Linked DNA regions of Homo sapiens: region 2 is linked to region 1. A link means that fine-mapping ties the variant in region 1 to the expression of a gene that starts in the linked region. Tissue or cell type: whole blood. Region 1 holds a variant in brackets; the other region holds the start of a gene. All regions are shown on one strand. Distances are from middle to middle.

Evidence for each region. PIP is the estimated chance that this variant, and not a neighbour inherited with it, causes the effect.
Region 2: NEK3 starts here. The variant in region 1 is fine-mapped to the expression of NEK3 in whole blood (TOPMed, PIP above 0.99).

Annotation. Positions count from the first base shown.
Region 1 is chr13:51,954,872-51,957,544 of GRCh38, reverse strand. ATP7B (ATPase copper transporting beta) reads left to right here. Exons shown (of 21, transcript NM_000053.4): 9 at 1-29. Among named protein-coding and RNA genes, the nearest start is that of ATP7B, 55 kb to the left of the region's middle. The variant CT/T (reference allele first, on the strand shown) is at 1,277.
Region 2 is chr13:52,158,287-52,160,971 of GRCh38, reverse strand. NEK3 (NIMA related kinase 3) reads left to right here and starts at 1,375. Exons shown (of 16, transcript NM_002498.3): 1 at 1,375-1,429. RefSeq lists silencers at 1,439-1,498, 1,579-1,688.

The sequences.
Region 1 (2,673 bases):
ACCCTTGGTGAGGACAATTTAATCATCAGGTGAGTTATGGTTATCAAATGTCTTTGTGGTTGGTATCTATCAATCTGTGTGAGCTGCATCAGATGCCCATGTTGTATTGACATTGCAATAGACCTTGTGAGTGTGGGCAGAGACACAGTAAGATCACCACTCTCAATCCAGCTACGAAAGCAAGGCATTGAACTATAAAACTAGCAAGATTTGTAGGTGGTGTGTGTGTGCGAAATGGCACATGGGAGGTGTAGATGATTAGTATTCCAGGAATTAAGAAGAGGAAGGCCAGTGTTGGTCAAGGGAAACTTCACAGAGAACATAGAGTATGAATTAGGCCTTCCTAGTAAGATACACATTCAGACAGGCAGAGAGATAAGGACTTCAACTTGCTAAAGAATAAAAATTGAAGGAGAAATTTATCTTCTTCTTAAGGTTGCCTGATATTAAAAATAATAATTATTATTATTCCTGGAAACTCTTGTTGCATTTATTGTTTGCTAGACACTATTCTAATCTCTTTGTATTTAATCTAACCAAAGATGGAAACTTTCTGAGGCAGGGACTATTATTACTCTTAATTTACAGATGAGGAAGCTGAGGTTCAGAGAGGCTAAGCAACTGGCCCAAGGTCACACAGGTATTCAGTAATGGAATTGGGATGTAACCCAGGCTGGTGGATCCAGAGTCTATTTTCTTAACCTTTACACACACTGACTCTTAATGCATATTTAATAATATGGAAATTTTTCTAATTAAGGCTTCTGTATTTCCTTGGGGTTAGCTTCTTTTTTATATTCTAGGCAATGGTTATTTCAGCCCTCCTTCATATTCCTAAAATCTCTCCCTGGTCCCACCACATTTTCTATTAGCCTGTGGTCTCGCTTTGGACTACTGGAAGGAGAAGTGTTCAGATGGAAACCCTCCAGTTCCCTGTCCCTCAGCCTACACAGCTAGCCTCCTCCGTGGCACCTCCCGCTCCTGCCCCGTTGGTGGGAGAGGCGTCTCCTCCAATGCCTCTACCCGGGAACCTTTCTCTGTTGGTTTTCTCAGTGGTTTTTGGTGTCTCTGATTCTTATCCTCCGATGTCATGCAGACTCTAACCACTCCCATTTTCAGAGGCGTTGTGCCTTGCCCCTCCCTTGTGTGCCCTTGTCCATGTATCACACTGTTGATGGAGCCAGCCTGCCCTAGCTGTGTCCTGGAGGCCTGGGCGTGAAGGCTGAGACAGACCCCTTGCTTCCCCATGGGGTCTGCAGGGCTGGTGCAGCTGGCC[CT/T]GGGCACGCCCCAGGTGAGTAGAGGAACTGACCGGGGCCACACAGATGCATGAGTGTTCATGAGGTGCAGGCTGGCTGCTGCGCGGTGGCACTGGTTTTGTTCTGGATCCTGGCTTTTAAATGATCATCACAATTGTAGGACTGGCAACTGAGATTTGAGTCCTTCTGGTGTTCCAGGCTCACTCCCCAGCACTTGCCACAGATCGTCTAGTTCCACTCTGTAGCTGTTCCGTGAGGCAGCACTGTCATCATCCCAGCTTTCCTCAGGAAAAGCCAAGTGCAGTGAGGTGGAGTAATATCCCCAGAGTCCATGGCAGGCAGGCAGCAGAGCTGGGATTGGAACCCTGGAGGCACAGAGCCCCCCTCAGCCACTGTGCTGCGCTGCCCCCAAACAGGACCCTGTGTGACGGCACCTGGCATGCTGGGCTCTGCTGTGCCATGGGTCTGCAGCAGTCACATGCCTTGGCTTCTTTTTTTTTTCTTCTCTTATAAATTAATTGCATGAAAGTTTCTGAGAAGTGAAAACGTTCAGACAGGGAGCCAAGCCGCTGGCAGCTGTGTTGGTTTTGACTCATGTTTCCTCCAACTCGCCTTGCTAGGGTCTTCGGTACAGTTTGAGGCGCCTCTGATGGCACTGACTGCAGTTGCTTGGAACTATTCCAGGGATCTGAACAGGAGGAGAAGGCATCTGCCGGCCGAAGTGCCCACGGGGTGCGTGCAGCACCTGTCATAACTCAGTTCTTTTCCAAGAATGCCGATTCATTTTTTGGCTGGGGACGCACGGCCTGACTACTACCATGCAACATGACAGGACATTATTAAGCTAGGGGCCAGAAGACCAGAGTTCATTCTGCCTTTGGCTCACTGTTTGGGTGTGGTCATTCCTACTTGCCTCCTGACAGCACACCCCGAGCCCAACCCTCTGTCCCAGGCCAAGGCTGCACCCACTGCCGCCTGGATTGCCGCAGTCTAGGCCTCCCCTGAGCTCAACCATTCTGTGCTTTGAGGTGCACTGGACACTGGTTTCCCAGTGACTCTGCCTCCCACAGGGCCCTCCCGCGTCTGGGCCTCTGCTTGTGCCTTTGGTCCATGGCACCATCTGAAGGCCCCCAGAGGTTCTCGCATAACTGCCCTCTTTGACTGAGGCTTGGGCTTCTTCCTCTGACCATCCCTTTGCTGGGGACACTTGTGCTTTCTCTTTACTCCAAGTCTTGGGTGCTGGCAGCGTTTCTAGGTGCGATCCGTCTGGCACACTGTAGTTTCCTTGCTGCTGCTGCTGCTTAGTCTCCATGGGCTTTCTTCTCTCCTTTTTCCTTGTGGATGGTCCTTGGGGTTCTGGTGGTACTGCCTCTGTCTTTGTGTGTTACACACCGTCACTGGGACGTCTCACTCTCCC
Region 2 (2,685 bases), 200 kb before region 1:
TGGTTGACACGTTATAATGAACACGTTCAGCGCTTACAAGTAAAGGGTAACCAGATGTTGTTCACAGTAATCCTATGAGGTAGGTTCTATACTTTTATACAGAGGGATTTAGTTACTCTGCTGTATTAGTTTCCTAAGGCTTCTGTAACAAACTGTGACAACCTAAGTGGCTAAAACGACACGAATTTATTACCTTACAGTTCTGAAGTTCAGAAATACAGCTCACTGGGTTAAAATCAAGGCGTCAGTGTGCATGGTGGTTTTCCTGTAGTCCCAGCCACTCAGGAGGCTGAGGTGGGCGGATCGCTTGAGCCCGGGAGCTCAAAACCAGTCTTGGCAACATAGCAAGACCCTGTTTCAAAAAACAAAAAAATCAAGGGGTCAGCTGGACTGTTACTTCTGGAAGCTCTGGGGAACAATTTGGTTTTTGTTTTTTGTTTTTCCCTCCTTTTCTAGCTTCTCCTCCTTTTCCACCTCCCACCTCCTCCTTTATATATATATATATATATATATATATATTTTTTTTTTTTTTTGGAGACAGGTTCTTGCTCTGTCACCAAAGCTGGACTGCAGTGGTGGGATCATGAGCCCTCTCCAGCTCTAGTGATCCTCCTGCCCCAATCCCCCGAGCAGCTGGGACCACAGTGCCCGTCGCTATGTCTAGTTAATTTTTCGTAGAGACGAGTGTCTCACTATGTTGCCCAGGCTGATCTCGAACTCCTGGGCTAAAGTGTTCCTCTCCTGCCTCTGCCTTCCAAAGCACTGGGATTGCAAACATGAGACACTGTGCCTGCTCCTCTTCCAGCTTCTTGAGGCCAGCTGCATTCCTTGGCTGTTGCCCCTTCCTCCACCTTCAAATAGCTTTCTCATACTGACCTTCTTTTTGGGCCCCTTCCACTTTAGAGAACCCTTGTAATTACTTTGTAATTACCCAAGCACACACTCCAAGATCGTCACCTTATTTTAAAGTCCGCTGATAAGCAACCTTAATTCCATCTGCAATCTTAACCCCCTCTGCCAAGCAAGAGAACAAACGCACAGGTTCCAGGGAGTAGGATGTGGACATCCTGAGGCGGAAGCATTATCCCGCCTTCCACAATTGCCCAAGGTCACATAGCTAGTAAGTTCTAGCTAGCACTGAGTGCTGTGCCCGTGAAATTTATCTACATAGGCTTTCACTTAACCTGCAGACAGAACTCAGTTAGTCGGGGACAATTTCCCTCAATGTTAACAGCACTGTTCCACCGCAACGTGGAACAACAGCTTTAAAACGTGCTCTTCGTAGGCCCGGCTACTCCAAGAACAGTGCCTCCCGCCAGACCCAGGCGGCTTCCTTCACCCGCAACCCGAGAGACGACCCGCCGGGCCCGCCCCGCGGAAGCCGCCGGTTGCCAGGCCAAGGAGTGGACTAGGGTCGCCGGGGAAGCGGGTGAGTGGTCCCCGCCCTGGCGGGCTGCCTCTAGAACGAGGAGGGCGGCGCGTGGTCGCGGCGCGGAGCCGAGTGGGAGCGAGGGGTAGACGCGCCCCGGACGCGCGGCCGCGCCCCTCACTTCCGCCCCGCGGTCTGGACCACTCGCCGCAAACCCGCAAGTCCCTCGCCGCCTTGGGGTCTGGGCGCGCGGTGCCGTGGGGGTCAGCAGGGCGGAGCGGCTTTTCCAGGAGAAAGGGCCCTCACGGGTGAGCGGGGCGACTGGGCTCCCCCGCGGTGCAGTTGCCCCGCGGGCGCCGGCCCCGGCTCAACGGATTCTTCTCGCTCGCTGCCCGGAAAGAACCAGTGAGAACCGCTGTTGCAGCAAAAAAAGAAGTTAATAAGCGCAGGGCTGGCCAAACCAGAACAGGGTCTCAGACCTGTCTCCCCGAGAATTCGGGGGCGAGGGTTTTAAAGGGCATTTTGGCTTCGGGGGGCTGGGGAACTGAAACAGTTGACCGGCTGGGGATGAAATCACAAGAGCTTCTGAAACTCGGGGCGGCTTCGTTGGTTCCCAGGAAGGGGTGGGGTCAGTTTCCCTTGTCTTGAAGTTTACACGAAATCCCTCTCCCAGTTATCCTAGCCTCTGTGCTAGAATAAGAAAACGACAACACGGTGAAAACTTAGCCCGTGAGGTTAGAAGCAAGATGGAGTCAGTCATGTTAGATTTCTCGCATTACTTATACATCTGTAAAGGTGGTTTCAGGGACCTTTCTGAACTTAGCCCGTATCTCACTGGTGATCCCACTTCTGGGTATTTGCAAATCACTTTATTAGGTTTTTAAAAGTATTGTTGCAGGCATGCGAAGGGGCCGATATACTTTTGCCATGTCCAGAGTGTATTCAGGTCTTGTAATGATCATATGGGTGTAATATTGAGTAACAGGCAAATGTGGGCAGAAAATATCAAATGTGGTTTTCAGCTAAGAAGTCTGGTTGCTCTTAATTTTCAGTTACTCTCCATTGCATAGAATAAAGCCCCGAAGAAACGAAGAATAAGATCATGGGGAAACTTGGCTTCCATGTTAAACCGTGTAATACCAGGTGTTAGAATAGTAGTAAAGGACTTGTTTCTTTCACATCTATATACACTCAAAAGACCTCATCGATCTTGGAAAAACATTGTTTCGAAGACAATGTGTATGACTGATTTGGTTATATGAAGAAATTATTTCTAGGATTTCCTGGTAATTCTGTGATAAACAGTAATACAAACT